Regions from separate parts of the Homo sapiens genome. Here regions 1, 3 and 4 are each linked to region 2. The links come from fine-mapping of genetic effects on gene expression. A gene starts in region 2. Each other region holds a variant in brackets. All regions are shown on one strand. Distances are from middle to middle. Region 1 overlaps MTCL3 (MTCL family member 3). Region 2 holds the start of ECHDC1 (ethylmalonyl-CoA decarboxylase 1). Region 3 holds the start of KIAA0408. Region 4 has its middle 22 kb from the start of RNF146.

Evidence for each region. PIP is the estimated chance that this variant, and not a neighbour inherited with it, causes the effect.
Region 1: its variant is fine-mapped to the expression of ECHDC1 in whole blood (INTERVAL, PIP above 0.99).
Region 3: its variant is fine-mapped to the expression of ECHDC1 in whole blood (TOPMed, PIP 0.92).
Region 4: its variant is fine-mapped to the expression of ECHDC1 in whole blood (TOPMed, PIP 0.98).

What each region holds. Positions count from the first base shown.
Region 1 is chr6:127,488,537-127,496,649 of GRCh38, reverse strand. All of the region lies in intron 4 of MTCL3 (MTCL family member 3), which reads left to right. All of the region lies in intron 4 of SOGA3-KIAA0408 (SOGA3-KIAA0408 readthrough), which reads left to right. Among named protein-coding and RNA genes, the nearest start is that of MTCL3, 27 kb to the left of the region's middle. The variant T/C (reference allele first, on the strand shown) is at 4,343.
Region 2 is chr6:127,340,552-127,348,664 of GRCh38, reverse strand. ECHDC1 (ethylmalonyl-CoA decarboxylase 1) reads left to right here and starts at 5,056. Exons shown (of 6, transcript NM_001002030.2): 1 at 5,056-5,329. LOC105377994 (a long non-coding RNA gene) reads right to left here. Exons shown (of 4, transcript XR_001744334.2): 4 at 7,006-7,178. RefSeq lists enhancers at 3,150-4,023, 4,898-5,771.
Region 3 is chr6:127,452,945-127,461,057 of GRCh38, reverse strand. KIAA0408 reads left to right here and starts at 1,669. Exons shown (of 6, transcript NM_014702.5): 1 at 1,669-1,883; 2 at 6,957-7,211. The coding sequence starts at 7,077. It overlaps SOGA3-KIAA0408 (SOGA3-KIAA0408 readthrough), which reads left to right. Exons shown (of 13, transcript NR_174482.1): 8 at 6,957-7,211. The variant G/A (reference allele first, on the strand shown) is at 3,358.
Region 4 is chr6:127,240,787-127,248,899 of GRCh38, reverse strand. No RefSeq gene overlaps it. Among named protein-coding and RNA genes, the nearest start is that of RNF146, 22 kb to the left of the region's middle. The variant A/G (reference allele first, on the strand shown) is at 4,223.

The DNA of each region.
Region 1 (8,113 bases), 150 kb before region 2:
TTATTATGAACAATGCTGCTAGGAATATTACTGTGAAAGTCCTTGGTGGATATATGTTTTTATTTCTCTTGAGTATGTACCTAAGATTGGAATGGCTGGGTCATATGGCAAATTTACATTTAGCCTTTTAAGAAACAGGATTTCTAGTTTTCATTGGTCTGCATGTCAAATCCTTCTGTTTCACACATTGAAGGCCATACATTCGATAGCTTATATTTCTTGTTTGAATTTCACTGATGTTATTTTTAAAAAAAAATTTTCTCAGATTCTGGTTAATGCTTGACTACCATGTTAGTTTTTGATATTACTGTGTTTACGTTTTTGTCTTGGCCTTCAGATATATTTTAATCAGAAGTAAATGATAGCTTTATACTATATTAACTCAGAATTCTGTCAATTTGAGTAACAATATGAACAGGGTAAATTTTCTTTAAAAAATATTACTTTAGGAAATAAGTCTGGTTCATCTTTGATTACTTTCCTTAACTTCATTAATATGTGGAATATTTTATTCCTGTGGCAGTGGTATCTCATGCTCTTGTGTACATGCATTTATTTCCCCCAGCTAGTTTTTTGTATTTTAGTAGAGATGGGGTTTCACCATGTTGTCCAGGCTGGTCTCAAACTCCTGAGCTCAGGCAGTCCACCCGCCTCAGCCTCCCAAAATGGTAGGATTACAGGCGTGAGCCACCATGCCCAGCCGAGAGTGTATGTCTTAATATTCAATTTAACCCAGCGTTGCCATGCCATAATCTAGACCCAACTTTACCCGTTCTTCAAGTGTTTCAAGTGAAACTGGAAATTTGGATTTTTCAAATGTAAATGGTTTACATTTTTAAATTTGGTAACTAATTCCAAAAATTTTAAAGTGTAATTGTGGGCTATCACATTTAACCCAGTCCAGGAATTACCCTCAGAAAAGTGCTTCTATATCCTTTCAGTGCATTTTGGAAATTAATGAATACTCTGACCTTTAAATTTGTATTATGAAATATCTTAAATATGTAATTGTGTAAAGAATAATTTTAAAACACTCATGTAATGCCCACCCCTTAGTGTCCTGCCATCTTGTAATGGCACATTCAAGCATATTTCTTACAAGATTCTAATCCTGATAGAACAATGTTGCTAATTTCACTGCATTAATGAGTTCGAAGCTGGTTGAGATGCAGTGTAGAATAGACTGGACAGCTCATCCTTTCACCTTATAAATGTTGGCCACAGTTTTTTTTCTTTGCCTGAATTATAAACAAAGGCCTTAAGGAACTCTGGTCACCACCCAGACATAATTTTCTAAGTGTCTTTTAATTACTCAATGCAATGATGGTTAGAACCCAATCCATTAACAAGAGTAAATTAGAATACATCTCTGCATTTGTTGTTGTCATCCATAGTTTAATAAACATATCTTTACTGTGGATCTAAGATATAAAATAATTTTTTTTTTTTTTTTGAGATGGAGTCATGCTCTGTCGCCCAGGCTGGAGTGCAGGGGCTTGATCTTGGCTCACTGCAAGCTCCGCCTCCTAGGTTCATGACATTCTCCTGCCTCCGCCTTCCTAGTAGCTGGGACTATAGGTGTCCACCACCATGCCCGGCTACTTTTTTGTATTTTTAGTAGAGACGGGGTCTCACCATGTTAGCCAGGATGGTCTTGATCTCCTGACCTCGTGGTCTGCCCGACTCGGCCTCCCAAAGTGCTGGGATTACAGGTGTGAGCCACCAGGTTCTCAGATTTTTTAAAACTCTAAGCTGAGAAATATCCCAGTCTTAAATCCATTTGCTTGGGTGGAGTTCTCTGAGGCTTTTGCATGGTGCCAACCAAGTATAATACATGATATATTAAAGAAGCACTTACCATGTTGGCTTTGATTTTTTAAAGCAAGGTGGTCTTGCTTTGTGATCAGTTTATTATTGGCAGTTTGACAGACCCTCTAATAACCCATACCCTGCTCCAAAAGAAGGTTCTACAATGATGAAAGAGTTAATTGTATCATAAACTACTTCACTGGTAGCCTTGAGTCCCTTGATGAATCCCAGAGAAGCTTAGAAAATACAGAGGCCAATTCTTCCTAAGGATCCAGGAAATATTTTGATCATATGATATGAACTACATAATGCAAGGCAGCCCATATGGAGTTCTAACCTGACTTTTAAAGGGGATGTTTTCACAAGGATCTTGTAGGCCTCAACTGTTACAGTTTTTTGTCAGTGCTATTTCCTCCAGTTCTGTTGTAACCACATCCCATTAACAAGAGAAGCCTCTATTTTTTTTTCTTCTTTCTGATATCCTATGGTTTTTAAGCTCTCTTATATTTTCTAGAGTTAAGTTCAGCATCTTACTTTCTAAGTTTCTGATGTACCTAAATTTCACTGTACACTTAAATTGGTGCAAAAGTAATTGCAGTTTTGCCATTTTAAGTTTAATGCCACTAATAGTTACAAAGCATGGGTTCCAATTTAAAGACATTTAAGCTTTATTACCAAATAATACACTAGGAAAAGGGCAGATATGTTCTAAAGTAATTCCTGGCACCAAAGAATGGCTTAAAAAGACACTGTACAACTGAAGGGCCATGCAAACCTATTTGGCCCTGTGAAGATAATTCTGATTCCCACACCAAAAAAGACTTAAAAGTTTCCTCTTTTATTGGTAGCCTGGTTCAAGGGTATGCTCTACAAATTGACTCATTAATATTCCTTAACGATAAAGAATTCACATAACTCTGTCGTCAATCTGAGCTCTGCTGTAGGTATCTACTTTATCACATGGGAAAAGAATAGAGGAACTAGGAAAAGGAAAATTTATTGGATTCTTTAATTTAAAAAAATAAAACAAAATAATACCATGATCACAGCTATTTTAGTTTGGCATTGTATCAGTTTTTAGAGCAGAAAAATAGTTTTCTCAGCTTTTAAAATTTGCTTTTATTTAGGCATTCACTGGAGATAGGATGAAATAAGTTTGGCAGCCTCATAACTCAAAAGATAGGAACGGTACCTGGCCTTATGGGATGGAGAAAGGGTTTAGCTGTCTAGCAGAAGAGGGCTGGCTGATTTATTGGCAAATTCAGGTCTCTGCCTTCATGACATAAACATCTGTATGCCAGATATACCTCCTCACCTCTGACATGTGCCTCTATGACCATCTTTAGAAGGGAGTCAAAGTGAAAAATCCAGGACTTTTAAAATTTATTATTACCTTCTGGAAACAATTTCCAGATTTAAATTGCCAATCAACTTTCCTTCCCATATCTTCCAACATTATTTATTAGAATCAATGAATTAATAATGCTTCTTTTCTTCCCTTCTCTATTCTTTTCTAAAGTCTGGCTTTTTAAACTATCACTGTAAGTTTGGAAAATCGAATCCTTAAATTAAAATTGATAATTTTCTGGGTATAGTTCACTTTGTATTTGTGCTTCAACTCTGTAAATTTACATAAGTAGGAAATTTTGGAATATTTAAAGTTATTGTTCTTCTCTTGCCTAGGAAAACTATAGAAACAGAATGATAAACAAAGTTTGCTAAAACTAAGGGTGGGATGAACAAATATAAATCAGAGGCATAGATAAAGGCATTGTGAAGATGTATATATCACTTCTTCCTAAAAATGAAGAATAAAAGCTAAGTTCAAATAGAAGAAACACTTCATATATAATAAGCTTAAATGTTAGGATGAAATTTATTAGCTTTTAACTCCTATATACCTTTGGTGCTAATTGAACACCTGCTATTAGTAAGGGCAGCATCTGCAATTTAGAACTGGAAAAGTGAACTTTAAAAATAATTTATTTAAGCTCAGTTTCATTAAAAAATTTTTCTGGGGGCTGGGCCTGGTGACTCAGGCCTGTAATCCCAGCGCTTTGGGAGGCCGAGGCGAGTGGATCACGAGGTCATGAGATTGAGACCACCCTGGCTAACACGGTGAAACCCTGCCTCTGCTAAAAAAATACAAAAAATTAGCCGGGTGTGGTGGCGGGCGCCTGTAGTCCCAGTTACTAGGGAGGCTGAGGCAGGAGAACATCGTGAACCCAGGAGGCAGAGCTTGCAGTGAGCCGAGATCGGGCCACTGCACTCCAGCCTGGGCGACAGGGTGAGACTCCGTCTTAAAAATAAAAAATTTCTGGAATCAAAATAGTGGCAAAGGCAGGGGAGAAATAAAAACAAGGAAAATACATTAAGCTTTATTTTTCTTGTGTTTGATAACCTTCTCAACTCTTCCTCTTAGCCTTTTACATTCTTTTTTTTTCGCTTTTATGGAATTTGAATACAGGATATTGTTTATAAATCTGAACTAAATTTATTAGCCTAGTGTATTTTTTAATCCCGGGGTGAAGAA[T/C]GTTTGGTAGATGTGTCAGTGGATTTTTGCTGTGTAGCAAACCATCCCAAAACTTTGTGGCTTAAAACAACATTTATGTGGCTCATAATTCTGTGGTCCATTCTGGTCTCAGGTAGGTCCATGCATGTATTTATGGTCAGATAACAGCTAGAAGGCTCTGCATTGAGGATTAACTGGCTGTTCACTAGGGCAATAGGAGCATCTGGGCCACATGACTTTTCATGGAGCAGGCCAGCCCAGACTTAAAACACAGGGTAGCAGATTTCCAAGAGAGAGTGAGCAGAATTGTACAATCTCTCAAGGGTAGACTCAGAACCAGCACGCCATTTCTGCCAACAGATTTTACAGGTCAAAGCAAGTCACAAGGCCAGTTCAGTTAGAAGAGGTACGGAAGTAGAGTCCATCTTTTTTTTTTTTTTTTTTTTTTTTGAGACAGGGTCTTGCTGGAGTCTAGGGTCACCTAGGTTGGAGTATAGTGGTGGGTTTATAGTTTACTGCAGCCTCGAACTCCTGGGCTCAAGCTATCCTCCTGGCTCAGCTTCCTAAGTAGCTAGGACTAGCTGCATGCCACCATGCCTGGCTAACTTTTAAAAAATTTTTGTAGAGATAAAGTCTCACCATATTGCCCAGGCTGGTCTACTCACATATTCCCATTTATAGGCCTACCTCAGAGATATTGCAGGTTCTGTTTTAGACCACAGCAGTAAAGCAAGTCACACTATTGTTTGGTTTCCCAGTACATGTAAAAGTTATGTTTATACTATACTGTAGTCTGTTAAGTGTGCAATAACATGGTATCTAAAAAAAGTATATACCTTAATTTTAAAATACTTTATTGCTAAAACATCCTAAGGATCATCTTAGCCTTCAACAAGTCATCATCTAGTTGGATGGCGGGTCTTCCCTGGATGTTGATGGCTGCTGACTGATCAGGGTGGTGGTTGCCAAAAGTTGGAGTGGCTATGACAATTCCCTAAAATAAGGCAACAATGTGATTTGCCACGTCAGTTGGCTCTTCCTTTTATGAAAGACTGCCCTGTAGCAGGCAATGCTGTTTGACAGCATTTTACCCACAGTAGAATCTCTTAAAATATTGGAATAAATTCTTGCAAAACTTGCCACTGTTTTATGAAGGAAGTTTATGGAATATTCTAAACTTTTTGTTGTCATTTCAGCAAAGTTCATATCATCTTCACAAGGAATACAGTTCATTTCAAGAAATCACTTCCTTTGCTCATCTATAAGAAACAACTCCTCATCCATTAAAGTTGTATCAGGAGCTTTCAGCAAGTCAATCACAATCAGGCTATACTTCTAGTTCTCTTGCTATTGTCACCACATTTATTTCCTCAACTGATGTCTTGAACCCCTCAACTCATCCCTGAGGGTTGGAATCAACTTCTTCCAAACTCCTGTTAATGTTTTGACCGTCTCCAATCAATCATGAATATTCTTTTTTGTGTGTGTTTTTGTTTGTTTGTTTGTTTGTTTGAGATGGAGTCTTGCTCTGTCCCCCAGGCTGGAGTGTAATGGTGCGATCTCAGCTCACTGCAACCTCTGCATCCCGGGTTCTAGCAATTCTTCTGCCTTAGCCTCCCGAGTAGCTGGGACTACAGGCACGCATCACTACACTAGGCTAATTTTTGTATTTTTAGTAGAGACGGAGTTTCACCGTGTTGGCCAGGATTGTCTCAATCTCTTGACCTCATGATCCACCTGCCTAAGGCTCCCAAAGTGCTTGGATTACAGGCGTGAGCCACTGCGCCTGGCCCAATCATGAATATTCTTAATGGCATCTAGAATGCCATTTCTTTCCAGAAGATTTTCAATTTACTTTGTCCAGATTCATCATAAGAATCACTACCTGGCAGCTATAGCCTTATAAAGTACATTTTTAAAATAATAAGACTTGAAAGTTAAAGTTACTCCATGATCTATGGGCTGCAGAATGGATTTTGTGTTAGCAGGCATGAAAAGAACATTAGTCTCCTTGCACATCTCCATCAGAGCTCCTGTTTGACCAAGTGCATTATCAACGAGCAGTAATCTTTTGAAAGGGATCCTTTCTTCTGAGCAGTAGGTCTCAAAAGTGGGCTTAAAATATTTGGTAAACTGTGCTGTAAATTGAGATGCTGTCATAAAGGCTTTGTCCTTTCATTTATAGAACAGAGGCAGAATAGGTTTAGCATAATTCTTAATGACCCTAGGATTTTCAGAATGGTAAATGAGCATTGGTTTCAACTTAAAATTATCAGCTATTTTGGCACCCAACAAGAAAGCCTGTCTTTGAAGCTTTGAAGCTAGGCATTGACTTCTCCTTTTTAGCTATGAAAGTTCTAGATGGCATCTTCTTCCAATAGAAGGCTGTTTTATCTACATTGAAAGTCTATTATTTAGTGTAGCCACCTTCACCAATCATCTTACCTAGATCTTCCCAATAGCATGCTGCAGCTTCTACATCAGCACTTGCTGCTGAACCTTGCCCTTTTGTGCTATGGAGATGGCTTCTTTCCTTAAACCTCATGTACCAATGCCCACTAGCTTCTAACATTTCTTCTGCAGCTTCCTCACCTCTCTTCCTTCACTTTCATAGAATTGAAGAGTAAGGGCCTTGCCCTGGGTTAAGCTTTGGCTTAAGGGGATGTTGTGGGTTGTTTGATCTTTTATCCAGACCACTAAAACTTTTTGCATATCAGCAATAAGGCTGTTTTGCTTTCTTATTATTTGTGTGTTCACTAGAGTGGCACTTTTAATTTATTTCTAGAACTTTTACTTTGCATTCACAACTTGGCTAAGAGGCCTAGGTGTTTGTCACAAGAGGCCTAGCTTTTGGTTTATCTTGGCTTTGGACATGCCTACGTCACCAAGCTTAATTATTTCTAGCTTTTGATTTAAAGTGAGAGACATATGACTCTTCTTTTCACTTGAAAACTTAGAGGCCATTGTAGGGTTATTAATTGGCCTATTTCAATACTGTTGTGTCTCAGGGAATAGGCCTGAGAGGGAGAGAGATGGGAGAACAGCCAGTTGGTGGAGCAGATAGAACACACACCACATTTAAGTTAGCCAATTTATATCAGTGAAGTTAATCGTGCCCCAAAACAATTGAAAGAGTAACATCAAAGATCATTCATCCCAGATTATCATAATGGATATAATAATAATGAGAAAGTCTGAGATAATGGGAGAATTACCAAAATGTAACACAGAGACACAAAATGAGCACATGCTTTTAGAAAAATTGCACGAATAGACCTGCTCAATGCAGAGTTTCCACAAATCTTAAATTTGTAAAAATTGTGGTATCTGTGAAGTACAATACAGTGAAGCTCAATAAATCAAGGTATGCCTGTGCTTTATATCAACTCTAGATTACTTATGATACATAATACAATGTAAATGTTATGTGAATAGTGGTTTTTACTGTATCATTTTTAAGTTTGCATTATTTTTTATTGTTGTACTTAAAAAAAATTCAATCTGTGGTTGGTTGAATCCACAGATGTGAAACCTGTAGATACAGAGGGCCAGCTATATGTGATATGTCCTGTTTTAAATACTTTTCAGCTCATACAATTTTGACTCTTTAGTCTTTTTGTTGAAAAGCCTAAGACATTTTTATTTTTCCAGCTTCTTTCCATTTTATATTCCAGCTTTTTAAAGGTCTACTTTTAAAGTAGACCTTTTCAAATGGGCTTTTGTTTACCTGTTATCATTTATTGACTTTTAGTAACGCTTCCAAAACAAATCTAGGTAAGAAATAAAGCTACA
Region 2 (8,113 bases):
TAATTCTCTGCTACATCTAGGTGCTATAATTTCTCATCTGGATTCCTCAGTTCATGTGAAGGTGTCTTCATAAAAGGATAGTGGTTCAGGCCGGGCGTGGTGGCTCACGCTTGTAATCCCAGCACTTTGGGAGGCTGAGGCACGTGGATCACCTGAGGCCAGGAGTTCAAGACAAGCTTGGCCAACATGACAAAACCCCGTTTCTACTAAAAGTACAAAAATTGGCCGGCGTGGTAGCGTGTGCCTGTGATTCCAGCTACTCAAGAGGCTGAGGCAGAGTTGCTTGAACCCAGGAGGCGGAGGTTGCAGTGAGCCAAGATTGCGCCATTGCACTCCAGCCTGGGCAACAAGAGCAAGACTCTGTCTCAAAAAAAAAAAAGGATAGTGGTTCAAATAGATGTTTCTGTGAAGGGACAAGTACTGGGAAGTGCTATACTGCCATCTTTCTGACATCACCCTTCTTCCATTCTAGATAGCCTTTTTGAAAGTAATACTATAGTTTCAACATTTTACCATGTTATTAAGTGTTCTCATTCATTTTGAGAAATCTGAAAACCAAGTATATTTAACTAACAAAACAAACACTACATTCCCCCAAGTTACTACTGATAACTATTAACAGCATGAGATATTCATTCTAGTATTTTTTTCTATGGCATTTTTTAAGAAAAAAATTTAACTACATTCTCAAAAGAAATAAAGAGAGGAAAGAACCGAGGAGGAAAAAAAGAAAGGATGGGAAGGAGGAAAAATAAGGCTAACAAGGCATTTGAACTCAATAAGCTTACATTAATAAAAATTATCATGATAGAATATAATGCAACAATAAATGATATACATTGTGGTATAACATTTTGATATTTCTTTCTCATACCTAGAACTATAACCAATTCAGTCTAAAGCACGTGTTGTTTCAGGGGAAAGATAGCTGTGATTGGGTTACAAATGTTTTCATAAAACTCATACCAGGGACAAGTGAAGAAAATCATAATATCTGAGTCTGGTTTATCTTCTTCCCATCCCCGCTTTTTAGAGTAAAAAGGTATTTTGTGCTTCAGAGAGAAAACCCCTTAAAAACTTATTGCATTGAGTCTAGGCCACAAACAACAGATTGAAAATAGAATACATGATACTCAAAGCTGAAATATATAAAAAAAAAAAAGTAAAATCACATCACACGGTAGTGTTGAAACATTCAAGTGTGTAAATACATGTCGACATCCTTTGTTCAGAATGAGGAAATACTTGAAGTGTAAAAACTTATTACTAATCATTGTTTCTCAATTTTGACTTAAGGGCTATTTGTTCAGAATAAAATATATGGAACTAAGGCCAAGAATTTGTATGTTTACCTAATGTGACTTGTGTTTGCCAATGTTTGAGAACCTCAGTGTTTGTCAAGAGGCCTAGGAATTCATAAACATAACAAAAGTAACTGGCTTTACCTTAACCTAATATGCCAACTCCCAAAATTATGCCAAACTTGCTTTACTTGTCATCATAGCACTTAATACCCCCCAACATTATATATTTTTGTTTCATTTTTGACACATAACAATTTTACTTATTTATGGGATATGGTGATATTTTAATGTTATTTAGCAAAACCATCACCTCATGTATTTACCATTTCTTTGTAGTGAGAACAACCAAAATCTTTTCTAGCCATTTTGAAACAATGTTGTTAACCACAGTCATCCTACTGTGCAATAGACCGCCAGAATTTATTCCTCCTAACTGTAACTTTGTACCCACTGATTAATCTCTTCTCAGCCTCTGATAACCACCATTTTATTTCCCACTTCTATGAGATCAACTTCTTTGGATTCTACACCTGCATGAGATCATGTGATATTTGTCTTTCTGTGCCTGGCTTATTTCACTTAATGTTCTCCAGGTCCATCTATGTTGCCACAAATGACAGGATTTCATTCCTTTTAATGGCTGAATAGTATTCCATTGTATGTATATACCACATTTTCTTTATCCGCTCATCCACTGATGGACACTTAGGTTGATTCCATATCTCGGCTCTTATGAACAGTGCTGCAATAAACATGAGAGTGCAGATATCTCTGCAACATACTGATTTTACTTCCTTCAGATATATACCCAGGCGTGGGATTGTGGGATCATATGGCAGTTTTGTTTTTAATTTTTTGAGGAACCTCTATACTGTTTTCTATAATGGCTAGAGTAATTCAAATTCTTTTGTTTATTTATTATTTTTTTGAGACGGAGTCTCGCTGTGTCACCCAGGCTGGAGTGCAGTGGTGTGATCTCGGCTCACTGCAGCCTCTGCCTCCCAGGTTTAGCTGGGACTACAGGCATGTGCTGCCATGCCTGGCTAATTTTTTTGTATTTTTAGTAGATAAGGGGTTTCAGCATGTGGGCCAGGATGGTCTTGACCTCCTGACCTCGGGATCCGCCCACCTCAGCCTCCCAAAGTGCTGGGATTACAGGCGTGAGCCACTGCATCTGGCCAGTAATTTACATTCTTACCAACAGTGTATAAGTATTTCTCTCCACATATGCATGGGCATGTTATTTTTTGTCTTTTTGATAATAGCCATTCTAACAGGTATGAGGTGATATCTCATTGTGGTTTTGATTTGCATTTCCCCTATGATTATTTTTATTTATTTTTAATTTTTTAAAAATGTATGTATTTGTTTTTGAGAGTCTTGCTCTGTCACCCTGGCTGGAATGCAGTGGTGTGATCATGGCTCACTGCAGCCTCAAGCTCCTGGGCTCCAGTGATCCTCCCACCTCAGGCTCCTGAGTAGCTAGGACTATAGGTGTATGCCACATTGCCCAGCCAATTGTGATTTTTTGTAGAGACAGGGTTCTGCCATGTTGCCCATGGCTGGTCTTGAACTTCTGGGCTCAAGCAATCCACCTGCTTGGCCTCCCAAGGTGTGGGATTACAGGTGTGAGTCACTGTGCCTGGCTGAGCATTTTTTCATATATTTGTTAGTCATCATCATGTTTTCTTTTGAGAAATGTCCATTCAGGCCTTTTGCTCATTTTTAAATTGGATTTTTTTTTTTTTTTTTTTGGCTATTGAGTTGACTTCTTCATATACTCTGGATATTAACCCTTTGTCAGATATATAGTTTGCAAATATTTTCTCCCATTCTGCAGGCTGTCTTTTCACTCCGTTGATTATACATATTATGTATTTACTTATCTTTCATTGTCCACCTACCCCACTATATAGAGTTTAACTTGGATATTTTCCCAAAGTGTTAAAAAGAAAGATGGAAAATGGGAGCCAGAAATAGAAAGCCCACTGAGTACTACAGTTATCACTGAGAAAGAAGAATGAAAGTTATTACTGAAAAATAAAACTGAAGAAACCTCTCAGATGGGCCTGGTGCCTGGGTCCATGGGGACAAAAGTGGAACATCAGTCTAGCAGTCTAGTCTGGTGCTGGGGAAGACCTAAAGCCTGATTCTTCAGAGGCCATCATGGAGGCTGGGTTTGTGGGTGGTAGCCTGTAGGCTAGGCCCTCTGGGGTAGTTCTGGTGCCAGGGTCTACTGGGGTAGACCTGGACCTTGGGTTTGTTGGAGCAGGCCTGGAACCTGGGTTCACTGGAACCTGGGGCTGTAGGGACCAGCAGTCAGTGGACCTAAAGCCTATATCCACTGGTGCCAACCTGGAGACTGGGGCTGTAGGGCCCAACCTGGTGTTGGAGCCTGGTGCCTGAAACTATGGGGACCAACATGGGGAATGGAGTGGGCATAGATCTAGGCGCCATGGAGATTAGCCTAGCATTGGGGTGATCTTGGAGTCTCAGTGAAATGGCTCAGTGATCTTGGAGTCTCATTTTATAACAAACTAGAATTAAATACAGTACTTCTAATAATGACTTCTTCCAATTAGTCCAAACTGGGCTCCCACTTATTCCCTATCATACACATCTCCGTATCGTAAAACTATCCTCCCTGTTCGGCGCGTTGGCACATTCTGTTCCTCCGACTAGAATATTCCCTGTACTTATTCAAATCATACCTATGACCACTGCAGAACTCCAGGAACATGACCATCCCATCTAAACCCCTGCGTTCAGAGACTTGACCAAACTCTAGCAAGCTTTAGCAGCATAAGGCCCTGTGCCCAGGGCGACTGCCTCAGAAAGCTTAACTACGTGATGTAACCAGCACACAACTGATGATAGGTCTCTGACATCCCTTTCTTAGAACGTTTACTAAAGGGCTTGCAATTGTAAAGACTTATTTCTTGCCACTCAGAAGTTCTCTCTCAAGGACCAGAGAGTCATTCCTTTGAAATGTAATCGAGAAGGATAAAATCCTCCGTAGGAGGATAGAATCCTGCGGTAACTGTTAAAACGCGCGCACACACAAACACACAGCTGGCCTAATCACATTTACACTAACAACTCTGTAGGTTCACTTTCTCTACTGAGCGCCCGCATATCCCCTTTCTCCTTTTAAAACGTCCCTTTAAAAATGCCCAGATGATCTCTGCACGAATCGAAATAGAGCTCAGCTCTTTCCTGTCAGTAGTTAACTGAATGTTTTCACCGCTTTAACGTCCAGCTGCGCTTATCTTTGACATCGACTACCTAAGGTCTACCTTTAGTCCCACGACTCTGACAAAATGATCTCAATATTGGTGTAAAATCACCTCCCCTTTCAAGGGTCTTCCAAAGCACTTCCTGTCTGCGGCATACAAAATGTATTGGCACGGAATTTTAAGCTTACTGAGCTTTATAAACACGTCACATTCACACATTCAAGACACACACTGGATATTCGGATAAAAACAAACAAACAAAAAACTGGCTAAATACCCATTCCCCTCAATAACTTGGATAAGATACCTAAAAAAGGTCGACCTTCGGTACCTTTCTGTCTTCTCCCCTCTCGCTATTTGCCTACACTGGCTTCCTCACCTCCACTTTTTCTCACGTTTATCTGAGCGAAAACAAGCACGGTTCGGCAGCCTCCTTTCCCAGCCCTACCTTTGTGCTGCAAAAGCGAAAATTCAAAAGCCAAGTACAATAGGAGACCGCCCACCCTGGCTCCCTCGTGACACGAGGGAGCGCGAAGCGGAGGGCGCCTCGCGGCAGGAGCGGGATTTCCGGGGTCACGGGAACCGGCAGGGGAACGGGATAAAGTTCCCGGAGAAAGGAAAGGAGAGCGTGGGATAGTAAAAGAGAAGACGCGGAGAAGAGGAGAGGACCTACAAGAACGGAGGACAGGGGCGCACGATGGTCCCGGGGGGAGCGGAAACAAAGGCACGCAAAACGGAAAAGCGTGTGTAGGGGAGCGGAAAAGGAAGTCACCACCGTGGCCTGCGACGGTAAGTGGTCGTAAGGGTTGGTCTTAGCGCTTCAGTTTAGTGTTGTCAGTGGGAGAATCCTAAAATGTCGCCGTGGAATGGACTGTACCGCTCGCTTCTCCAAACGTGTCCCAGACGGCGAGCCTCCCCGGCTCCGCGGCTTGTCCCTTGCAAGCGCCGCGCAGGCCTGCCCCGCGCTGGACGTGGAGACGCGGTGCCGAGCGCCACGGGCCGGCTGTGCGCCGGCCGGGGAAAGAGGGCGAGGGGAAGAGATGAATCGGTCTTCCCAGAGCGCGCCGCGAGGTCGCGAGATTACACTTTAAAAAGCATGAGGAGGCTTGCTTTCTACATGCTGATTTAATTTCGGAATACATTCGAGGCCCTGTGCTAAGTTAGGTAATGTTCCCTATAATTGTCTTTTATGTATAAGTTGTCTTGCCTAACTAAAACTTTTCTTACTTGTATCGTGCAGCCAACTTTTCAAGAACGAAAGATGAGCAACTCCTTTCTGGTAGAGGTTCTTTCATTGGAGAATTTTTGAGCTACAATAATCCTTTTAACGCTGCGCACACATACAGGGATTACACGTGTAGGGGATTAAAAACACAGTTAAGTTTAGGTTGAAGGTGCTGTTAAGGACTTCAGGCAACATTAAATCAACACTCAGTTCTTTGCTCTGTTCCACATCTGGGCTCCTGTATAGCAGTTGTTGCTCTAGGTGCTAGAGGTATGCAGAGGAACTGGACAAGGGCAAGGAAAACAAAGGGCTCCTTCTTTAGAAGAGCTAGCATTCTCTTGGAACAGACAAGCTTGTGGTGAGAAGTATATTTGTGAAATCTACGAGGGGAGGGAGCAGCGCAGTAATAGAACGGGCGATCCTTTCTTGATTTTTTATTGGGTTCTGGCCTGAAAGGCGACTGTATAATCAGCTGGGATTCCTGCAATGATTAACATTCCAGGAAGGGAAGCCAGCCTGTGAAGAAGCATGGCATTGAAACAGGGTGAGTTGTGAGGATTATAAACAGGGTAGTTGGAGAGTTGATTTGTGGCCAGATTCTTAAGCCCCTGTTTAGTCTTAAGAATATTATCTTTAGGCACTGCAAATGCCCTCTTGCAGCTAAGACTAATGGGAAGAACTGGTTAAAAAACTAATTACAGCAAAGAGTGAGTGAGAGTGGTGATGAGAGATACAGATGTTCTGAGAGCAGACAATAAGGGGACTTTATGTAGTCCTATGTTAGAGGAGATGATTTGAAGTTACTCTGAGGAAGACAAAAATGTAACAGGTAGATCGCATATGCGAAAGCTTGAGATGGCGAAAAAATCAAAAGGATTTCAGGAACTGAAAGTTGTGCATTTTGGCTGTGTGAGGGAGAGAGTTGTGGGTGGCATGTAATGAACCTTGAAAGGTAGTTTATGTTATGACAGCCTACAACCGAATCAGAACTTTTACAAACAGGCGATATACAGACAGTCTGAAATCAAATGCTTCTGATTTCTATTACGTGCTCTAGGCTAATTGTTTTCTTTTTAAGTATGAGTTTGCGTTAGTCTTCTGGATTTAGTGATTACAGTATAAGGTGAAACAGGTAAAGGCTTTTAGAGAACATCTCACTTATTTCCTGTGCACTAAAGGGAAACAGATCACCTTTGCAGAACTTGAAAAAAATGGGAAGTGCGACCTTTGATCTCAGATGGACTTTCTTTCCTCTTTTCAGTGGCTTGGTAGTGAGCTTGTTCAGCTCCACTGAATCTTCTTTGTGGTGGGGCTGCAAGACATCCTGCATGGCAAGTTTTAAACATAAGTTTTACCCCGAAGAAAGCTTATAAAATTGTAAATGCTTCAGAACCTTTTCATCTTCCTGTGATTCTGGAAGAAATCCAAAAAAAACCAATCGTTTAACTACATACTTCTACAGAACCTGAATCTTAAGCTTTGTTCACTTTATACTATTAGATACTATAGTAGGTTAATAATGACTAACACCTTGTCATCTCATCACTGAGCTTTTGTCTAAGATAGTCTCTGAATTTAGAACTGGGACGAAAGTGTACATAATAGGCTATTATAAAATTTTTAGAATTGGATTTCTAAACTTGGGGTCAGTGAATCTAGCAGGCTTAAGCAGTGTTCTCAGGTTTTTCTGGCACAGACAAGGAATATAAGAGGAGGAGAGAAAAGGAGAGACAGTAGTGGGAGGGAATAGAATGAGAGAAGATAGAAAATATGGAATTAATAGAGAAAGGATACATGAAGTATTACAAGATTTTCTTGGAAAAATTGGCATTTCAGTGATGGATCAAAGATGTCTAATGAGGCAAAATACTACTATTACTTAAATATTTAATGTTTTAAAGATTTGAGGATAAAAGGATATAGATCTGATGGCGTTCATACTAATTGCTGTAGTGTTGATGTTGGAGAGAGGGGTAATGTATCAAGACAGAGCAGACAGACCCTTTACAATGAGAGCAGAAGATATGTTGTTTACTGATTCTACTTTCCCACAAAATGCTAATGCTTTTATAAGTCCCTCCTCCTTATTTTCTAGATTAACTCCTTGTTTCTTCCTCTAAACAGAGGATTATGGCAGACAGGCAAAAAAAAAAAAAACTTTTAAAGCAACTATCTAAGTCCTTACCAAGTTTCTTTAGCACTTTTATTCTAAAGTTATCAAGGTGGAAATTGGGGCCTCTGCCCCACATGTATCTGCTTCATTGGGTTGTATCTTCATACCTGATTAACGGCATATTCTAGGCAAAAGCAAGACCCTAGGCATGCTATGTTTGGCTCTGAATATGTAG
Region 3 (8,113 bases), 110 kb before region 2:
GTGTGAGCAACCACACCCGGCCAGAAACAATGTTAAGACAATTCTGTATTGATGTTTTTGTGCAACTCCCTCCTCCCTTTCCCTCTCTCAAAGAATCTTCTTCCTAGCCTCATAAGCATGGAGGCAGACATGAGCTACCCTTTATTGTGTGCTTGGCGCTATATATATTCCCTCATATTCTTATGGCCTCTTAAAGTAAATATAATTATGTCTTTAAGGAAGAATCAGGGTCTGCAAGATCACACAGATAAGTGGTGGCAGCAGAATTGAAACTTAGATCTCTATGACAAAATTCCATGGTTTGCAATCAGACAAAACAGTTCAAACCCGTTTCCTCCACATGGGTGCATTTCTATGAACTTTTGCATGATGCTTTACCACAATGAGCCTTGCTTGGGTTTTATCAGTAAGATCAGATTATCAGTATCTAGAGACAGAATTGCTCTGAGGGTGAACTCAGATAAAGGTCTGTTCAAAGTACTTAGCACAGAACCTTGCAGAGGGTTGCCCCTCAGTGAATAATCACTATTATTACTATAACTATCACTGTTATTGTTGTTATTGCTGTTGAGATTATGATGTCAGGCTTTCCAGACACAGAGTATGGTTTCATTTGATTGTCCTACATGTATTAAAGTCCTACTGTGAGCAGGTTACTATTACTAAACTTTAGCTCCTCATGAAATGTTTATCTGGAAGCAGGTGAAAATAATGTGAGTGAATATGTATTACTTTAAAGACCACACCAGGGAAGCTCTTCAGACTTGAAGATAAGACCTTATTGTTTAAACTTGTGTATTTGCTAAGTTAGGCAAAAAATTGCTCTAGAGACTTTTTTGACTAAATTAAACCAAATATCATCAGATGCATGTGTGTACAAAGCCACAATAAACCTGAAAATGTCGCTGGGGAGGCAAGATCTCCTAGCATTTCAGAACAGGCTGATTTGATCATGATTTAGAGAGCTTTTCCATACACTTAGGCTGCTTTCTCTTCCTATGGCTGCAGCACACTTTAGTGGAAAATAAGCCCATAGGTATCTCATTTTTGGGGTGTGTGTGTGTGTGTGTTTTGTCCTCCCACAATAAGAAATCTCATCCTTTCCCATGGGCTCTGATTTTCTCTAACGTAAAGACATCGCTACTACTGTAGATAAAAGCAACACACTGTCAGAATCACAGAGAGCTAAGAGGTTGGACTTTATGTTCCATTTCTATTTTATTTGAAGATAGAAGTTTGATAACTTTCACAGATCTTTTGAGAGTGCATAATATATATAATTATGCTACACATATTGTTCTGCCACATCCAGATGCAAACTTCTAAAGGTGCAGCAGAGTACATCCTGCCACCAGCTGAGAAGGAGAAAGAATTATGGAAGGAGGGAGATAATTCTTGCCTATAAAAAAATGAGTTTACTTTCCTAATAAAATAAATCTAAAATTGGCCATTGTCATTGTATGATGTTAACAACCAGCTCTTTTGGCAAGTTTGAAAATACTGGGCTCCATTATAAAAGCTAAAAATGTCCTGGACCTGGAGTTGTTTACCCAGAGCATGAGCTGCTCTAAAGTTACAGAGCTCTGGTTGGAAGAGGTGGCTTGAAGGCCGCCTCCAAGTAACTGACGTCACAGTAGTCTCAGCTGCTGCTGTGACACTAAGCTGAGCAGCTTTTTGACTTGTAAAAGTGGTGAAGGTTTCAAAGGGACTTGTCAGTACTGCTCTGTGGAATGGTTGGACTTATTTTGCATCCCCTTTTCTTGTAAAGAATCGAGATTCACCGAGCTGAGACTTTTCTCTTTAAGACAGCTAGCCATCCACTTTCTTCCACTGCTAATTGACCAGTGGTCGAGCATCCATAGGATTTCTCCCCAGTGTGAAAGGTATGTTTCTTTCCGGCAAGTTTACAAGCAAGTGACTAATTATGGCAGGATACAAAGGGGCTGCTGTTGAGATGTTTTAAACTATGGATACTGTTTAAGTGGAGTGTAATTTCAACATCTGTCTCTGCTGTTGTCTGTGTCTGGGCTTAAAAACAGTGGGCGGGGTGCATAACAGATTGTACTGACTCCTAGGAAAAAGGCTGTTCAGCTGCTCAGGGTGGATTTCCCAACTGTGGACTGACAGTACCATCCGCTCTTTGAGACTGTTTTTCCAACACTGCTTCTCAGTTGTTTGAAAAGCACTTTGCCCATCATTGATTTTCACTAAGTATATTTATTCAAATGTGATTTTTTTTATTCATATAAAGACTTTTAACATTTGCAAATTAAAGGTCACAATCCTGGAGACTTGGTATTTGAAAATTGCGGTGAAAAATAAATTTTAGTTTTATCTAAGGTGGTGGTGGACTCACTGTAGAGTTAGTGTTTCTGTAATTTGAGCTGAAGTCTATGCCATTCATAATTGAATAATCTACGTTTAGGAGGGAAACTTACCACTATGTCTTTTGTTCACGATGGTTAGTTTTAGACATTTGTTTACTCAAACCAAATGTTTGCTTTTAAAGTTTGCATTTTATAAGTAAAATCAGTGTGCATACAGCTTGGATGTTTTCTAATTTGAGTAAATAACTGTAAAGAAAACAAGGAAGAAGATAATTAAATGAAACGGTAAAGTTGATTCATTCGGAATTGCATGTGGTAGTGTCTCTTTGACCTTGTTGGAGCATGAGGAATGTGCTAAATCAGCAATACACAGCAATGAAAAAAATTTCCCTTTTACTCTAACAAAATCAAATCATGGTGGTCTTTGGAAAGATTCAATTGCAAGTGAACAATAGAGAGGAATGAGATTTATTAATTCATTGAAATAATTCAAGTGATTATAATAGCCTGGAGAAAGGGATAGAGAATTTAGGAGGTAAATGGTACATTACTCTGATAGGTTATAAGCTGGGGAATTCCTAATCCATCAAAGTTAAGCAGAAGCAAAACATCTTCAGGCCAAATGAGTCTTCTAGGAATTGTGAGATTAGCAGTACCTACTGTGTGTGGCATTTCTATTGGAATATGTAACCTCTTATAAATGAAAAATCTTTAATTATGTGAAAAGTGATATGTTTAGCAAAAGGAAATAAGGACAGCAAGAAACAAGTACTCTAAACAATAATCTAAAAAGAGAGAAGTAGCAATGGAGCAGCTGCCCCTAAGGAACGCTGTTTAGTTTGTTTGGATGCAGTCCAGTTTTCAATGGGCGAGTTGGAGGTTGAAAGGGTAGTGACCCAGGTGTCCTAAGAATGGAGCACCCCTCAGAGAAAGAATTGCTGCCATGACCAAACTGAGGCTAATTTGGGGGTGAAAATAATTTCTTGTGAGACTTGTGTGTTACTCTTAAACTTTGCTTACTGGTAGGGCC[G/A]GAAGGCTAGCAGAACTATTTGCCTCCCATCACCATACTTATGCAACCCACTCACAACTCTTTATAATTCTGGCTTTCAGCCCTGGAAAGGGGAAGTAAGTTAAAAGGGATTATGCAATGCTGGTTTAGAGTTGGGGTGTGTGACTAAGTAATGCAGCTCACTCTGTCCTCTTACATTTGCTCTAATAAATTTTTATTCTGAAATGGAATTCTAGAAGGAAGAACATAAACTGGAGAGCCAAAGAGATATGGGGTAGGGGATGCAGATAGCAGAAATCCTTCCTTCTCTCCCACATAGATGCCAGTATCTGTGGGAGAAAATGAGTGACAACTAGGAACAAAAAGAACTTTTATTTTTGCCCCAGTAGAGAGCACTTAAATTGAGTTTTTGAATCTGCTGAACCACTTTACCCCATAACTTCTCATTACGAAACATTCTATCTCTACAAAGTTGCCCCTTCAGTTTGATATTTTTTGTAATATTTAAGTCAGATTTATAACAAAAGCAGTTTTACATAAGATTTGTTCACATTTTTATTAACAATAAAACTTTTTTCTTTAAATATGTGACATGTATCTTTAAAATATTTGAAAAAAGGCAAAAGAAGATCATGGAGAATATGAGAGTTCACACAATTACACTTGCTTCTATCTCGTTTTAAAATAAAGACCAAAATAATCTGTTTTTTTTCCAGAGAACAACATGGAGAGGGATAGATGGAGAAAGAGAGGAGAAAGGGAAGGAGGGAGGAAAGACAAGAAGAGGAAGGGAGGGAACAAAGGACAGAAGGAAGAAAACAAGAACCAAGTATTTTTCAGGCATTTGCTATGATCCAGAGCAGTGTTTAGGCACTTCTTTTAAGCATTTTTCCCTTTTGCTCACTTAATCTCCAAAACAATTCTATGCCCCCCCCCCACCACTTTATATTTAGAGGTGGAAGCAATATGTTTGGCTGCGTTACATCTAACATTATATTTACGACAAGACTGAGATGCTAAGAAGGCCAAATCCTTCCACAAAAAATTGGCACAGATATTGCTCTATAGAAATGTTCTTGCAAAGGCTTGTTTCTGATCCATAACTATTACATTTCTTGGCACTAGCAATTGCTCTGGGCCTGGAAAGGAAAAGCTCCATACATTGGTCCTTCTCCATATTAAGGGATGAGTTTGGCTCTTTGCAAATAGGTGCAGGATTCGGTCTGCTTCAGGACTGTTACCTGGGTTTAGATATAGTCTTGTTATCAAGAGCAAGACTGATCTAGGGTATTCCTGAATGATCTTCCGGTAGGTTAAAAAGAGAAAGGCCTGGCATCTTTCAACAGTAGCATGGAAGCGATTCAAGAAGAGTTAGGAATAGAAGGAAAAATTGGAGCCATTTGCTACATAATTGTAGAAAAGACTTTATGGTGATTTCTGAACATTTCCAATGTTTAAAGACAGTTGGGATAAAACATGGATTTATCATAGCTCCTCTTTTCCAGGTAGCTTGAAATTAGTCTGCATCCTTTTTTAGTTTCTTTGGTTAAATCTGCATTTATCTCTTATTATCTCAAACCACACCATTCTTCCTAAGAAGTTCCAGTGGCAAATACTTTCTAGTCAGCAAGGTAGTTTCACCACACAGTTAATTACGTATAGTTTTAAAGCAGTCTGCTAGTTTCAAGACAGGCACTGTCTGCATTTCCTATGAAGAATTGTTAGACGAACCTAAAAGATTACTAGGTATTCAAGATCAAGATCAATGGAAATTAGATTAGCCAAAACAAACAAAAACCAAAACTCTGTATGTTCTTTACCATCTTTATTTTATTTGTTCTTCACTGACATTTATTATGGCAAGTACTTGTGGTTACTGGTTTATATGTGGGAAAGATAGCAAAGAAAGGGGTGACAGAGGAGGTGGAGAAATGAGGTCAGAAATTGAGCATGGCCAAATGGATAAAATGAGATATGATAGCACCTTTAATAGCCAGATATGAAATTATGTATTTTTCGTGACTGAATTAATCATAATAGTGCTAGTGCCAAAGACATAGGAAAAAATTATCAAAATATCTTTAGTAAATAGTTTGAGAGTAAAGTAACAATATAGATCCCAAAATTATTAGGGTGTTTTGAAGGTAGAACCCTGCATATATAGCTAACATTTTTCATTTCTTATTCTATTCTAATTCATTGATCGTGACTCAAAAAATACAGATTCAAAACTGTTTACTAGTCAGATATGTATGTTCACAACAGTCTGACAAAAATAAAATTAGTGTTCGATATTTAGCTGATATTTAGGATTTGAAATATGCAGTTATCTTCTGTGAATACAAAATTGGCACTTGCTGCTTGGGTATGTGGCCTTAATTCGGCAGTGCCAGCACCCACAAAGCTATTGACTGTTGGGATCTTTGTCCGTAATTAGCATTAGCTGCCACCAGTAAGTTATAGCATTTTGATAATGGCTTAGTGACTGAAGAGTTAGACATCTTATAGGCATAATTATCTTAAACAGAGATTCAAACATTTTAAACATGCTTTTCTACCCCCTAAAAAGGCACATGACTTATTTAATACAAAATTATTTTTAATTGAAGTCACAATGAAATTTTGTAAAGCAAAAAATAGAAAACTTTCTTAAATTTCTCAAACTACTTTGCATTCAGTATGCCATTTAATCTTTTTAACAGTTCTATGACTATCCCCATTTTAATGCAAAAAACTAAATCCCAGAAATTTTAGACTTATACCAGTTACATAGCTGGTATTTTAAATTCTGACTTCAAACCTTAAGTACACGTCCCTGAAGGCTAGAAAGTTAATTATTTCAGTCACTACTTAATGTAATAGAGGATTCCCTGAAAACTGAGCAAAATGTTTTCTTCAGTTCCCTGTATTCAATATCCTAAGCAGTTTATGGTATATAGCCTATTCAAAGGAAAAGAGAGCATGGATAAATTTTAACGTATATTTCACAGGATAGTTTTGATGCTTCTAGATTTTCCTTGATGAAGTGACATAATGAATATATTTTTTATAATTTAGATTAGTTTCTGGATGATACATCAGTCCTAAGTTGACTACCAACTTTGGGGTCTTCATAAGTAACACAGTAATGACATTTGGCACAGGCTTGATCTCTGAATATAGAATTAAGACTGCAAACCAGCTCTGTTTCAGGAATTTAAGTCATAAGAATATATAATCAGGTTGCATCAGAACAGAAAGAATAATTTTATTGCAGCAGAATCTGTCACAGTGTGTAGATGTGAGCATACATTTGAATTGTATACTTACACTCTTATTCATGAAAAAATCTATTTTTAGAGTAAGTGGTTAAAGGGATGATTACATCTCACATGCGCATTTAATCATCTTGTCCACTATAATTTTGCTGTCTGGTCTCAGAAAGGGAAAAAAACTTTGGACAATACTTATTACTTTATTGACTGTGTTAGTTTCTTCTTCTTAAGTAGACTGTTGTCATCTCTTTTCTTTTGAGTCCAATTTTCCTATAGTTTGTTTATGTCAATGGCTCGACAAAATGATAAAATATATTTCCAGAAAGCACATGGATTTGGAACTCTCTCTTGTTATGTTTATATTAGGCTTTATTTTAAAGGCAAGTGAGACTGCTTCAAATAAAACAACTTCAAGCTTCCAAGAAACAGTTAAGAGGAGGCAGAGAAGAGCAGAAACACTTCTTTGCTGACACTTACACTGTTGCCATGGACCTACATAAGCAGTGGGAGAACACAGAGACTAACTGGCATAAGGAAAAGATGGAATTACTGGACCAGTTTGACAATGAAAGAAAGGAATGGGAAAGTCAATGGAAGATTATGCAGAAGAAAATAGAAGAGGTACACTTTAATTTGTTTTGGATATACTGTAATGTTTAAGTGCAGGATGAAAATTCTGTGGGCTGTTTTGTATTGGAAACTGTTTTTGATTTCCTTATTCGACCTAAGAGGTACATTTCTCAGTGACATTTACTAGAACAAAAATAGCATAATCTTATCCAATGGTATTGTAAGGATTATTTTATATCATTGCATGAAAATTAAGCATTTGAAATGTCACTCTATAATGTTTCAACTTATTATTTTCTGGCTAGAGAGCTTTTTTATCAAAAGTGAGGTATGTATTTTGCATGAATTTTCAAATACCAGGTCCAGGAGTAAAATGCAAGAAAGATATACTTGGTGGGACATAGATTAGCAAAATTATAGTTGGGCATTAGAACATAGATCTTTCCTAAGAAGATTTATGAGTAATGTCTATTAAAGGAAATTACATGTTAGATAATGCAGTATAATCAAAAGGAGTATCATATATCAAACAGAAAATGGCAGTAGACATGAGATTTATTCTATCAAGGTGTGCACATTTAGTGGCATATTTATTGGAAAAGGAGTTATGAAAAATGACATATCACGACTCTGACACAGTCATTTTGTTCCCGTTAACCCTCCCTCAGTCCGTTGACCCTGAAATATTTCCTTCAAGCATTTGCATTGATGTATATTCAAGCTTTTGCACCAATTGGAAATAATTTATGCTTATCTTGCTTTCTTTTGGTAACATCCTTAGTATTGACTTTATATGGTTTTATGCACATTACCAAAGTTGTTATTTTAAGACTTCTTGGCCTTTTTTGCAGGCAAAGTAAGTGCTTTATGTGTTTATAGTACAGTCATGTTTCTTATTAACAGCCATGTAATTGACTGTGAATAAAATATGAATTGGCATAGTAGGAAGAAAG
Region 4 (8,113 bases), 100 kb after region 2:
ATGATTTAAAACTTTATATATATGTGTGTGTACATATATGTGTGTATATATGTATATATGTATATACATGAACAAAAGACTGAAAACTGGCCACCACCCTTGTACTATTATTTATTTATATATATATACACACAAACACACACATATATGTATTTCTGTTTTCCTCTTAGTGTTTTTGTATGTAATAAGGTTTTGTATTACCTTATTATACAAGAATGGTTAAATGGATTTTCACTGAATATGTAGAGTTTAGAAGTTGCTCTGGAAGAAGTGCTTTCTTTCACTCTAGCACTCTCATCTTGCATCTATACTATGTTACTGTTGCTGCTGATTCTCTTGAAGTTTACTCTGCTGGCCAGATTCTCCCCTGCTCACCAGTAGTGAAACCTCATCTTGATCTTGGGCAACAAAAACTTTCTCCTGCAGTGCAAATGACTATTTTTTGTTTTGTTTTTTGATGGGGAGGGCAGTGTCGTTTTTTTTTTTCTTTTTTGGAGTGTGGGGAGCAGCATGTACCAGTTATCCACCACTCACTCAGAGGTACCTTTTCTCGACATGGGAGGATTCCACAAACACTGTCATGGATATTGGAAGCTCCAAAAAGTAGCTTATCCTTCTTCATGGTTGTTGTTGTTGCTACTTGCACAGTAAACAGAGGTACTCAGCAGCCACCGTGGTCAGGGGCAGCTTTAGAATAACATCTTGGTTTCAGCACAATGCCTCCAGCCCCAGAGAGTGAAGAAAGACCCCTCCTCCCCCAGATAAAGGCCCACCTCATTTCTTAATCTACTATTAACCACTTCCCAGAATGATTCATCTTGAGAGAATCGTTTCTTTTGTCAAAATGAGGGGTTCTGTACCAAGGTTCAACTGGTAATCATAACATTGCTCTACATGGATGCATTTCCCAAAATCTGTGTTATTCAGTCATGCAGTGGACATCTGTTGTTTATGCCTGCCAAAAATTCATTTCCCTTTCTTTTGAAATGATGCCCTGAACTTATATTGGAAAAGCTACTCCTTCACTATTGGCAGCCATAGAACTGCCGATCAAGATGTCCCCATTTCTCCTAGCCAAGGGATAGACATGTGACCCAAGTGATACCATCAGATGCTTTTCTCTCCTTGAAATTTGGAGCTCATGTGAAATGCAGAAAAAGATGGAGAAAGCAGTTTGTGATGATTAATCCCAGCTGGCCGTGACTGTCCATTAGTTTCTCCTCTCCCCAGAGATACTTTGGCTCATGACTTCTTCAGGACTGATCCTAAGACTGTGTAAAGGTGTCCTATATTCTCCAATCCTCTTATGCATTCCTATGTGCTTGATAGGCCGAGCTGATTTCTGTTTCTTGCACCTAAGGAATCCTAACTGATACAAGTTCTACCCATGATTGCACATTTAGGTAAGCATATTATTTTCCCAAATTTCCTGTTACTAGGTTTCACCTATCTACCAGGATAGAGCTGTAAAATAATTCTACCTTCTTACCAATATCAACTGTCTATCTGGTCTACTTTTCTCATGAGATGCTGCATCTAATAGCAGGGTAGGGAATAGGACAGGATCACACCTGAAATGTGGTTATTGAGGTCAAATGATTGCCATGACTCATTTTCAATTATAATGAGTAGTTTTATATTTGTATTTTATTGCATCAACTTGGAAGCACTCTGATTCTTTGAGAGAAAGAGAAGAGAATATGAATTAAAGAAAGAACCAGTGACATGGTGGTTCTCCTTTCCCCTCTTGTTGCAACCTGGAAGGAATCAATAGGCCAATGCAGTTATAAACAGAGCTAAGGTTTCTGAGTCCGGGGTGAAATATTGAATTTATCTTTGAGAAAGATACTCCTGTGTTTGGGGTTAGACTTCCTAGAAGTGTCTCTTTAAACATACAGGTCTAAGGCAAAAAACTACCCATTATTCTTGGAAAAGCAATTTTCGTATTTATATGTTACATGCCTTACTCTTCCATGTGAGTTTTAGAATTATTTTTAAATTCTACAAAAAATTATGTTGGGATTGTACTGAATTGATAGATTAATTTAGCTTAGAGTTGCCCAATAAAATACAGGATGCCCAGTTAAATTTGAAATACAAGTAAACATATTTTATATACACTCCTGTGCCACATAATGACATTTCAGTCAATGACATATTGCATACACAAGAACAGTCCCATAAGATTATAATACTGTATTTTTACTGCATCTTTTCTATGCTTAGAGACACAAATACATACCATTGTGTTACAATTGCCTGCAATATTTAATACAGTGACATGCTGTGCAGACTTGTAGCTTAGAAGCAAAAAGTTACGCTACATGGCCTACGTGTGTAGTAGGCTATACCATCTAGGTTCATGTATGATGTTCACAAGATGATGTAATCACCTAATGATGCATTTCTCAGCATGTATCCTTGTTGTTGTGTGACACATGACTGTATATCTGTATATTTATATATAACTATCTCCATCTCAATCTATTATCTATCTACGTGTCTATAAGTATCTATGTATATATGTATGTATGTATCTATCTATCTATCTGTCTATTTATCTGCCTGTTTATCCTATGCAATAATTTTTTATTCAACAGTATGCAATAATGTTTGGGACATACTTATATTGAAAAATTATTATTCATGTATTTGAACTCAAAAGTTAACTAGCTTTTCTGTATTTTTATTTGCCAAACATGGCAACTCTAATTTAGGAAGAAATAACAGCTTTCAAATATTGAGTCATCCTTTCCACAAACATGATGTACTCTCTATTTATTTAGGGCTTATATCACTAAATAATTTGGATTGTATATCTTGCTTATTTTTTTAGATTTATTCCGAAGTGACTTAACATTTCTAAAATTATTGTGAATGGGATCTATTGCTATTGCAAAGGAACCCTATTCATTTTTTATAGTGGTCTCATAGCAACTTTATTGTACTTAATTAATTTGTTCATTAGGTCTTTAAAAGTTTTGTATTCACAATAATATAACTTAAAAATAATAAGTTTATATTTCTTCCTTTCTATTCTATATTCATTTTGTCTCTTTTTATTATTTTACTATACAGATTACAACCTTTAGTACAATGCTGAATACAAGTGGTAATGGCAGACATCTTGTCTTATTCTTAACTTAAAAGGAACATTTATAATTTCCTTAAAGATATTATATTTATTAAAAGTTTTAATATATAGTTTTGGTCAGGCTAATACTTTTCTGTTTCTAGTTTGCTAAGAGTTTACAATTATTGTTATCATCATGAATGATTATTGAAACTTATCAAAAATGCTTTCTGTACCTATAGACATCATATCATTTTTCTCTTTTAATTTGTTAATGTGGAAATTACAGTAATAGATTTACCGATACAAAAAAACTTTTGATATGGATGTTTCCAACTTAGTTATGGTATACTCAGATGGAGACATATGGACAAACATTGAAGGGTTCCATTTGCTGATTTTATTTAGAGGCCTATGTGACACCGACTTAAAATTTTCCTTTCTCATAGTATTTATGTCTGATTCTGGGGTAAAGGCTATCTTGGCCTGACAAAATGAGATCACTACAGGGAAATTTCTTCTTGTTATATCCTCTTAAATTGTTTGTATAATTTGGGGTTGATCTTTTATTTCAAACAGTAATTCCAGTACAAAAAGAGAACAACAAATTAGCTGGGTGTGGTGGTGTGCAGCTGTAGTCCCAGCTACTCTGGAGGCTGAGGCAGGAGATTCGCTTGAACCCAGGAGGCGGAGGTTGCAGTGAGCTGAGAGTGCACCACTACACTCCAGTCTGGGTGACAGAGCAAGATTCCTTCTCAAAAATAAATAAATTAATTAATTAAAATAAAATAAAATTAGGTAACGCTCATTTTAAAAATCTGATGGGCCCATTTATTTTGCTTGTTTTGTTAAGTAATTGGTGTATTTTAAACTGTTAATTCACTATCTTCACTATTTAAGCTATTAATTCACCATCTTAATGATCTGGTTTTTAAAAAAGTTTTTTAAAATGGCACATGTTTATGTGCCAGTATGTAATAATTGTACATATTTATGGGTACATAGCAATGTTGTGATACATATAATAAATTGTGACCAGATCAAGGTAATTAGCCTATCCATCATCTTAAACATTTATCATTTCTTTGTGTTGAAAACATTCAATATCCTCCTCCTAGCTATTTGAAACTATATAATATATTATTCTTA[A/G]CTATAGTCATTCTACAGTGCTACAGGACACTAAAACTTATTCTTCTTATCTAGCTGTAATTTTGTTTTTGTCAGGTTTCCATTGGAATCTATTTTGGTAAGTTACATTTCTCTAAGAAATTGTCCATTTTGTCCAAGTTTTCATTTATATTGACGGAGTTATTCTGAATATTCTTATAATATTTTAAATTTTTATTCCATTAGCTCCTGTTTTTCCACCCTAATTTTATTTCTTTGTGACCTTTCCAGTGGTGTGCTGGAGCTGACTTGTTCTGGCTGCCCAGAGCCATGTGTCTATGAATCTCTCCCCAGTTTGCATTCAGTGGCATCATGTTGGTAGATTAAAATCAGCATTTGTGGCAGGATCTACACTATGGAAATCAGAGACCCCTATAAATAGGAACCTATTCCCCACCCTAGAGAGAGAAGGTTTACCAGCACAACTCTACTGCTGTCTACTTCTGTCCTTCCCTTCTTCTTGCTTGTCTTCCTCTCTCTCTCTCTTTCTCATCAAACTTGTTATAGATTTTTCTATTATATTAGTTTTTTCAAAAACAATTTTTGGTTTATTTTATTCTGTGTTTTGTATCTTTGTTTTTAATATTAATTGATAATTGATTTTAGTTTTATTATTCTATTTGCTCTATTTCTAGGATTTACCCTATTATTATTTTTAGTCATTGGGTGGATTATTTATTCATTAATTCTTAGTTTTTCTTATTTTGTAATACATGCATTTTAAGACTACATTTTTCTCTAAAAACTGCCTTAATTACAGTGCACAAGTTTTGCTATATGGGAGTTTAATTGTAATTCATGACTTAATGTTTAATAATAACCACTGTCCATTATGATTTCTTCTTTGACTCATGGCCTGTCCAGAACTTTGCTCTTTTAAATGCCCAGATGTTTTCCACTAAGATGTTGGTTTGCTTGTTTTTTAAGGCTATCTTTTCATTAGTACTTTTGTTTTAGAGCCAAGTAGTTATAAAATGTGGTATATACCTTATCAGTTTTTTGGCATTCGTTGAGACTACTTTGTGGCTTAGAAACTGGTCAGCTTTAAAAAATGTCTCATTTGAGCTCAGAAAGAATCTGCATTCCCTAATTGTTCTCTAAATTATAAATTTTGTTGCTCAAAACTTCTTATCCTTAAAAAATTTACCTGCTTTGACTCTCATATTCTGAGAGAAGTGTGTGAAGATTTTTTCACTGTTTAGACACCTTGTCATACTTCAGTCAGCTTGTTTGCCTTAGAATAACAGGCCTTACTGAAATACCTGGTTGAATACTCCATGGGCTGGGATATTAGATTCATCTTCCTTCTCTATCATTGTTTCACTTCATTTATGGTTCCTAGAGTCTTTCAAGTTAAGAGTTGTATTAAGCCATTTAAAAAATTATTTCTTCCACAATTTTCTATGTTTATAGTCAGAGAGAAGCACCTGTACCAGCTCTGCTGGCTTTATTTGCTCATGCTCTTCTCATGCTTTCCAATTCTGCCATTTCATCTTTTTACTGAGATAAAAATTCCAACTTTTAGCTTTCTTAATTCCTTTCATCTGTATCTTTCTTATTTTTCTTTTTATTTATTTTCTTATTTTCCCTATGCCTTAATGCTCAGCATCTTTCTTATTTTTCATTTGCTATTCATTTTTTCTAATTTCTTAGATGTAAACCCTTATTTCCTTGTTACTTTGTATATAATATTTACTTATTTATTTATTTTTGAGATGGAGTCTTGCTCTGTCACCTGGGGTAAAGTGCAGTGGCACGATCTCGGCTTACTGCAACCTCTGCCTCCCAGGTTCAAGCGATTCTCCTGCCTCAACCTCCTGAGTAGCTGGGATTACAGGCACATGCCACCACACCTGGCTAATTTTTATATTTTTAGTAGAGACGGGATTTTGCCATGTTAGTCAGGCTGGTCTGAAACTCCTGACCTCAAATGATCTGCCCACCTCAGCTGCCCAAAGTGCTGGGATTACAGGCATGAGCCACCACACCCAGCCTTGTATTTAATTTAATAAAGACACTTAAGACTATTGATTTCTCTATAAATAATTTTTTAAGGAGGGGCATATGTTTTGAATATCATTTGCTTAGTGTCACATTATATCTATGTCTATTCTGTACCAATTTTTTCATTCTGTTAAGGTTTTGCTAATGCAAAATCCTGCATTCAAAATTTTTTTTCATATTACAAAGATGCTTGAAAAGGCAGTGTAATTTCTGCAGAATTTAGTCAATACATAGCTATTAAATGAATCTTATTTATAAAATTATTCAGGTACACCCTATACTCATAATGTTTGATCTAATTGACCATTTATGACTTAAGAATGACATGGTGCATTTATTTACTCCTTTTGTACTTCTAAAAATTTATTATTTAATTTTAACTATTTTTTGCATTATATATTTAATGGTACTTAAATAAACAGTATTTATATAAATGGTAGTTAGATATATTAGTTAAAAAGTAGAATACCATGAAATACTATGCAACCATAAAAAAAGAATGAGATTATGTCCTTTGCTGGAACATGGATGCATCTGTAAGTCATTGTCCTTAGCAAACTAATGCAGGAACAGAAAACCAAATACCACATGTTGTCACTTATAAGAGGGACCTAAATGATGAGAACACATTACACATAGAGGGGAATAACAGACACAGGGGCCAATCAGAGGGTTGGGAGAATGGAGAGGATCAGGAAAAATAGCTAACGGATACTACACTTAGTACCTGGGTGATGAAATAATCTGTACAGCAAACCCCCATGACACAAGTCTACCTATATAACAAACCTGCATATGTACCCCTAAACTTAAAAGTTAGAAAAAAGTGGTGTGGTATGTAAGAGATGCAATGGTATGTAAAGTTACATGACTATTAAGTAGTCATTGGAGCTTTTACTCTTTATCACATACATCACCCTTTTTCTACTTACTTTTTGTTGCTTGAATTATAATAGAATTTATTTATAGAATATGATTCTATAAATAAATAAAAGTTGCGTCCTTTATATTTTCTACATTACCCACTTACATATTCTATTTACATTGCCCATGCTGGTTAAGATGATCAACTCTGGAAACAGAGAAACCATATACACATCTTAAGTCCCGTGATATATTTACAGTGTATATTGGTGTATGTCTTTAATTGTCTATTTTCTCAACCATAAAATGGAGATGGATATAGAATCTACTATACAGTGTTGTATTAAAATTAACATTTTATTATATGTAAAGTACTTTAACACATATATAACCTATATTATATGTGTAATATAATATACATATGTAATATATAGTGTTATATATATTACATATGACATATACTACATATTACAAATATATATTACAGATGCATATTATAATATATGTAATATGCATATATGTTATATATGTATTATGTAGTACAGCAATTGGCAAATAATGAACATTCAATAAATGATAGATCAAAAAGCAGAAGAATTATCCCTTAAAGCAGCATTCAAATACTGATGAGTAGATGTTTAAAAATAGGGAGCTAACCATATTTTAGTTTAATACCATTAAATCTGTGGCCGTCACTACTAGCAGAAATAAGTTAGAAACACATTCTGTAGGGTTTTGAAATGTGGGCAGAATGTAATACTACTAGTAGATAACATTTGTTTTGTGGTAGAGGTTTTAAGGCAACTCAAATTTTTTAAAGTTTTGATTTAATTATGTAAGCATTAGAAAACTATCAGTTTTGAACAGGATAGTATTATGGTGAAGATAGTGATAAATAATAATCTGTTTGGCATTGATGAGCAAGAGATTGAAAATAGGGTCGAGAATGGAAATAGAAAGATTAGATAATCCAGTGATATACGATGACAAAAGATCTGCAAGATG